2 linked regions of the Homo sapiens genome follow. The protein of the gene in region 2 purifies or fractionates together with the protein of the main gene of each other region. This does not show direct contact. Each region holds a gene or a part of one and is shown on either strand. Other genes may lie near its edges.

Region 1 (3,821 bases), on a different chromosome or scaffold from region 2:
TATAAAAGCAGCATCAAAGATAGATAAACGTTTCTTTGTATGTGATTAACACAGCTGGTAGGAAAGAACCACAACTTGGTGGTCAAGCTGCTTAATGTTTATCAAGTTCAGCATAATGGAAAAAGCATCAAATTTTAATTCCTGTGCCCTCACTTAATAGCTATGTAACTTTAAAGACACCATTTAAAATCTGAGCTTCATAATTATAAATTATTATGCAAATTAGTATGTAAATCCCCCCACAACCAAGTTATGAGATCATGTGAAATGCAGCTCCAAGTGCCTGGCTGGCTATAAAATGCTCCAGAAAGGCTGGCCACTGAAGGACAGACACAAAGTAGCAAAATCATAGGCTTATGTATTCTTTCAAGTCCTTCCCAAGGATAAAGATTATTGTATAATTATCACTGATAACAGAAGCTAACATTTATTGAGGGCTTGCTGTGTGCTAAGATTTTACATGCATTAGCCTCACGTCAGCTTTAGGAGTTGGGGTTAATTATGGCACCTAACTTATAGAAGAGGAAACCAATTTAGAGACATTAAAATACTTGTTCAAGGTTACACGGCAGGGAAAAGGCAGAGTCAGGATCTGTATTCTGTAGTCTGAATCCAAAGCGAATCCAAAACTCTGAGGTGCTATGCTCTGCTACCTGCTGATGGTTCTGCTGGGGGATGCTCAACCACCAGATGTCTTACTTGGGAACTGCACTGGAGGTCGAGGGTCTGCATTCTCCTTCTGTCGTAAAATCACAACGTCCCCATCTTTCAAGCCATAAGAAGCCAATGATCTGTGGTTGTCTGTGAGAGGTCTTTCCGCATAGACGATCTACAACAAGAAAAGATATACAACAGTATAAAGCACTGAGAAGTAACACAGCGCAAGGCAGAAGGACCAGTTTTCCCCTGAATCAGATGTCACCCTCCTTTCAAACCCTCCAGTGGATTCCCACCACATCCAGAACAAAACCCACAGTCCTTCCCGTCACCTAGCAGGACCAAACAATGTGGTCCCTGGCTCTCCTGACTTCGCCTTTCACTATGACTGCTGTTCCTCAAACAACAGGGATCAACTTCCCCTTCAGGGCTGTTTCTCTTGTTTTCTCTACCTGAGGAATGTTCTTTTTCCACTCATTTTTTTCCTTTTACGTCTCTGATCAAACATTACTCTTTAGAGTTCTTCCCTACTATGTTATTTAAAATGTACTCTCAACTAACACAATATATATTTACTTATTGTCCTTCTGCCCCATTAAATGTAAACTACTTGAGGACAAAGACTTTGTTTCATTCACGAGATCATAAATGCTTAGAACAGGGCCTGTTATATAACTGATGCTCAAATATTTGTTGAACTAAAGAATGAATGAATTTATGGAAATGGATATAATTTTAGATTTAATTTTTAGCAGGGAGGAAAAGGGAATGATTTATTCTGGGTATGCTAACTAACTACAGTACTATTAAATAAAGTGTGCACTTTGAAATAATCTTGAACACTGGCAAAAGGGTCCCAAATATCATCCTTCCTGCACTGCAATCTTCCTTCTCTTCTACCACCCCCAAAGTTTTATCACTCTGGGCCGGGCACGCTGGCTCACGCCTGTAATTCCAGCACTTTGGGAGGCCAAGGCGGGTGGATCACGAGGTCAGGGGTTCGAGACCAGCCTGGCCAACATGGTGAAACTCCGTCTCTACTAAAAATACAAAAATTAGCCCAGTGTCGTGGCACGTGCCTGTAATCCCAGCTACTCCAGAGGCTGTGGCAGGAGAATTGCTTAAACCCGGGAGGCAAAGGTTGCAGGGCTGAGATCGCACCACTGCACCCTAGCCTGGGCAAGCAAGATTCCATCTTGGTGGGGTGGTGGGAGGGGGGAGACTGGAAAATAAAGTGAAACTAAGAAAATAACAACTAAATACAAGTGGAAAAAAGAATTAGGAATGTACTACTAATAAAAATATTTTATGATGTGTAATCAAACTGAAAAAAACCTGACAGCACAAATAGATGAAATAATGTGTTGCAGATAGAAAGAACAAAGGTACACTATAATTTTATCATGAAAAAACATAAAATCTGCCCTGCATTATTACATACTCCAGAAAGGCATTCAGAACAAACTCAGGCTTTGAAAGGTTTTCCTCCTAATGATTTTTCACCAGGCCACATGCGAACTGAGGAACATGAGTTCTATCCTTGCCAGTAACTCCCTGCGAGGGGCATGACACTCAGCAGGTCCAGACCTCACCCTTCCCATGTGTCAAGCAAGCAGGTGGGCTAGATCATCATTACAGCTGTCCCTTCCAGTTCTCTCTGCTAACATTATCATTCTATGTTTCCTTACAGCTTTCATAGTAAGGTTACCTGAAATAAAAACTGAAAACACAGCATTTAAACTGGAAAAAAAGTGATTATGCCATATCTGCTCTCAGAATTTATAGACATGAGGAACAGAACAGGAAAATGAGTTCCTACCAAAATCAAATTCTTCTGAATATGAGCAAATTTGTAGGCCCAATTATACAAGTTTTATGCATGACTTGAAAAAAAATACTATTAAGTCCTTAATGCTCAACTCGCTGAGTTAAAACACATTTCAGATCTGGTATGATGGCTCATGCCTATAATCCTAGCACTTGGGGAGGCTGAGGTGTGAGCATCACTTAACCCATTTAGGCCAGAGGTTGCAAATTTTCTTTTGTGAAAAAATCATACCTTGGCAATGACCTTGAGTAGTAGGATATAACTCCCACAAGCTTAGCGTTCCATTGGAAGGCTAAGCACAAATGGGTTAAGCCCTGGAGTTTGAGACCAGCCTGGGCAACATAGTGAGACCGCATATCTAAAAAAAAAAAATTTTAAATAGCCAGCCATGGTAGCATGTGACTGTAGTCTCAGCTACTTAGGAGTCTGAGGCAGGAGGATTGCTTGAGCCCAGGAGGTCCAGGCTGTAGTGAGCTGCGGTTGCACCACTGCACTCCAGCCTGGGGCAACAGAGTAAGACCCTGTCTCTTAAAAAACAAAAACAAACAAAAAAAGAACCACATTTCAACAGACTGCAACTGTCACTCCCATCATCCCATTCACACACCCTCATTTAAACACAAATTTCACAGTAAAAGTACATCACCATCAACACAGAATTTCAGCAAAACAACTGAGAGTCATATTATAACTTGTGAGACTGCTTGGAAAAAACACATAAACCAGAAGTGATGAGCGTCACAGGTTGAGGTGTGCAACAAGAAAAAAGAGGTATGTCAAGAGAAATGGCAGGTAGGCAGGCTCTTACAGCATAGCATCAACACTGTGAAGCCACTGTCAACAACCTACTCTTTAATTTTCCAGTTTCAGAAATTCAACTATCAGTATATTTAGAGATACATGAACAGTCTCCTGGGAGCAGAGGCACATTTTAACGGTATTTATTTATTTATTTATTTTGAGACGGAGTCTCGCTCTCGCCCAGGCTGGGGTGCAGTGGCGGGATCTCGGCTCACTGTAAGCTCCGCCTCCCAGGTTCTCCTGCTTCAGCCTCCTGAGTAGCTGGGACTACAGGCACCTGCCCCCACAAGCGGCTAATTTTTTTTTTGTATTTTTTGTAGAGACGGGGTTTCACCATGTTAGCCAGGATGGTCTCGATCTCCTAACCTTGTGATCTGCCCGCCTTGGCCTCCTAAAGTGCTGGGATTACAGACGTGAGTCACTGCGCCCGGCCACTAACTATTTATAAGAGAAAATTTATTTATTTACAAGGAGGAAGCAAACTCAGGAGAATCAAAATGATCCTATGCAGGCTGGGTGCCATGGCTCACGCCTT
Region 2 (3,821 bases):
GCTTAATTAATGTTATCTCAAAAATTTTATACCGATTTCCTGGCTCTTTGAAAGTCTGAGGGTTCTGAGTGAGCGAAGTTTAGTGAAGCAGTTTCCTATGGCCTTTCTGCTCAGCCAAACCTATCCCCTGCTACAGATGAAAAACAAAAAACCGACCAAAATACTCGGCCAATTGTTTGTAACTCATTTCACAGATACAGAGCTAATTTTTCAACGTGTTCTTTTAAAATCCTAAAAATCACCAGGTGTGGTGGCTCACAGCTACAATCCCAGCACTTTGGGAAGCTGAGGCAGGAGGATTGCTTGAGCCCAGGAGTTCGAGAGCAGCCTGGGCAACATGCGGAGACCCTGTCTCTACTGTTTAAAAAATAAAAAATCATCATTTCTATAGTTTGTTACTAGAGAAGTTTCTCTGAACATATAGAGCACCAAGAAGTATCATGTATCTAAAAAAACCATATGGCACCATTGAAAAGAAGCCCAGAATATTCCCAGATGATACAATTCTGGAGAATGGAGAAGTAATTCTACCAGTGAAAGAATTTCCTGATCAACATCATTAAAGATTATGTAAAAATGTAAAGGGCTTATGAGCCTAAGTTTGTTCCTATGTTACCATATTCACTGAATTTTCTGGAAAAGTAACTTTAATAAAGTTTAATCTCAGAGAAAAAAAAAATCATTAAGGCAAAAAAGAAAAACCAGCCGGGTGTGGTAGCCCACGCCTGTAATCCCAGCACTTTGGGAGACCAAGGCAGGAGGATCTCTTGAGGTCAGGAGTTCAAGACTAGCCTGGCCAACATGGTGAAACCCAATGTCTACTAAAAAGTACAAAAATTAGCCGGATGTAGTGGCACATGCCTGTAATCTCAGCTACTCAGGTGGCTGAGGCACGAGAATGGCTTCAACCTGGGAGGTGGAAGTTGCAGCGAGCTGAGATTACGCCACCGCACTCCAGCCTGGGCAACAGAGTGAGACTCCATCTCAAAAAAAAAAAAGAAAAACCAACCCAGTGGAAACATTAGAAAAAGGATATAGATGGTTTACACAAAAGGTAACTGAAATGGTGGCTTTTTTTTTTTTTTTTTTTTGAGATGGAGTTTTGCTCTTGTTGCCCAGGCTGGAGTGCAATGGTGCAATCTCGGCTCACCTCAACCTATGCCTCCCAGGTTCAAGTGATTCTCCTGCCTCAGACTCCTGAGTAGCTGGGATTACAGGCATGCGCCACCACGCCCTGCTAATTTTTAGTAGAGTATTTTTAGTAGAGACGGGGTTTCTCCATGTGGGTTTTTTTGAGATAGAGTCTCGCGCTGTTGCCCCACTTGGGGCATAGTGGCACGATCATGGCTCACTCACTTCTTGGCTCAAGGGATTCTCCCACCTCAGCATTCCAAGCAGCTGGGACCACAGGTGCACACCACCATGCCCATGTAGCCATGGGGTCTACATATGGTTGCCCAGGCTGGTCTCAAATTCCTGGGCTCAAGCCACCTTGACATCCCAAAGTGCTGGGATTACAGACACGAGCCATCCTGCACAATCACAAATTGGTTTTAAACATATGAACAAATGTTCAACCTCACTCATTAAAACAAAACAAAACAAAAAAAAGCAAAACAGAAAAACGTCACCAGGCACCGTGGCTCACACCTGTAATCTCAGCACTTTGGGAGGCTGTGGTGGGTGGATCACCTGAGGTCTGGAGTTCAAGACCAGCCTGGCCAACATGGTGAAACCCTGTTTCTACTAAAAATACAAAAAAGTATTTTTTTTGTATTTTTAGCACACCGGGCGTGGTGGTGCACACCTGTGATCCCAGCTACTCGAAAGGCTGAGGCAGGAGAATCATTTGAACCTGGGAGGCGGAGGGTGCAGTGAGCCGAGATCGCGTCATTGCACTCCAGCCTGGGCAACAGAGCAAGACTCCATCTCAAAAAAAAAAAAAAAAAAAAGAGTCATGTAAAACTACTGTGTTTCATTAGTCAGATTATCAAAGATCAAAAAGTCTGATAACATGTACATTGGCCAGAGTGCATAACACACTGGAGAGTAAACTGTTACCACCTCTACAGCTTGATAGTACCTAATGAAATCATACATGTTTTGTACATGCGGGGCCTGATACTGCATTCTAGTAATTTATCTAACAGATATATTCATCCATGTGCAAAACCGACATGTTTACATTTATAGTGTGATTCTTTGTCATACTGTTTATAATAGGGAAAGGCTGGAAAAACCTAAATGTTCATTAATGGGCTGATTTACATAAATAAAAGCACATTCACTCAGTGAGATACTATATGGCCATAAAGACAAATGAGAAAGTGCTTTACTTTACAGGCAATATGGGACAATTTCCGTGATGTATTAAGTGAAAAAGCAAAGGACAGAGTCTATACACTATTTTACCATTTTATTTTTTAAAAGTACATAAGCACATTTGCTTGTCTCTGCAGAGACCATTTTCACAGTTATACCCAAGGAAGCAGTAGCTTTGTCTCCAGCAGAAAAACTGAGTGGCTGGGGGGACAAGGGTGGAAGGTGGTTTCTTCACAATACATATATCGTTCTGTACTTTTTGCATTTTGAACCATGTGAATGTATTATGCCAAGGCCCTGGAATCCCAGATCATCCTGTTACTCTAATCCTTCTGCTTTTTTTTTTTGCCTTTCCAACTAATGCTCATTAAACACAACTTTCATTTCTTCATGTTCCAGATGCAAGGATGGAGGCCAAAACACCTCACAGCTGACCAAGCTCCCTGGTAAAGGAGCTCATGATGGCTAAGCATTTATTTCCCACTGTAATGCAATCAACACACCTGCTGCAGATCCCTCTCCTCACTTCCATCCCTTTGTTCATGTAGTTTTCCTCCAGAATACACCTCCACTCTCTTCTCTGATCAAGGTCAGTTCCACCTACTCAAGGCAACCTACCTTACTAGCTGGGGCTACAATGCTGTCTCACACCTCTAAGTCCAGTAACCCTTGTATGCAGCAAAAGTTCCTCTGCAAAAGGCCTGCATAAGGACCTTCTCTTATATTTCTTTTTTCATTTTTTTTTTTTTTTTTTTTGGAGACAGAGTCTCACTTGGTCACCCAGGCTGGAGTGCAATGGTGTGATCCCAGCTCACTGCAACCTCCGCCTCCTGGGTTCAAGCGATTCTCTTGCCTCAGCTTCCTGAGTAGCTGGGATTACAGGCATGCACCACCATGCCCAGATAATTTTGTATTTTTAGTAAAGACAGGGTTTCATCATGTTAGCCAGGCTGGTCTCCAACTCCCGACCTCAAGTGATCTGCCCACCTCAGCCTCCCAAAGTGTTGGGATTACAGGCGTGAGCCACTGCCTCCAGGCTCTTATATTTCTTTTATATGTTTCACAACCATTGGCACAGTACTAAGCACAAAATATATTTCTCAAATTTTTGTTGAAATTTTATCTCTAAAATATTTGGTGATTCATTGTGCTGAACAACTTCCTGCAGGCATCTGTGTACCTGAGATTCATTTCATCCTTCCTTTCCTTCTCCAATTCAGTCCCCTCCAGTGTCCAAAGACTTCCCTCTTTGGAACAGTTCGCATATTACTACAGTGAAGAAAATCTTTCTGGAGACCCAAAGCAAAGGCTTTGTCCCAGTCTGGCCACTGAATCCCACAGCCTCCATTTAAGACCATTTTTGGGTGGGCAAAGTAGTGTGAAAGGTAAGGCATGTAGGGTTAGCTGCCCGGCTCATACAAAGACATATCACATTGAACTGAGTCCTGAGGATGATCAGGCCAAAGCAAGCGTTTCACAGGGAAGAGGCTAGTAAGGTA

What was found.
Region 1: the proteins of ELMOD3 (region 2) and DDI2 purify together in Homo sapiens (affinity purification with mass spectrometry; one large-scale study listed by BioGRID and IntAct). This does not show direct contact.

The regions. Positions count from the first base shown.
Region 1 is NC_000001.11:15,623,677-15,627,497, reverse strand, and holds part of DDI2 (protein DDI1 homolog 2), read right to left. Parts: intron 830-3,821; coding exon 700-829; intron 1-699. UniProt on the Homo sapiens protein: Aspartic protease that mediates the cleavage of NFE2L1/NRF1 at 'Leu-104', thereby promoting release of NFE2L1/NRF1 from the endoplasmic reticulum membrane.
Region 2 is NC_000002.12:85,357,537-85,361,357, reverse strand, and holds part of ELMOD3 (ELMO domain-containing protein 3), read right to left. Parts: intron 1-3,821. UniProt on the Homo sapiens protein: Acts as a GTPase-activating protein (GAP) for ARL2 with low specific activity.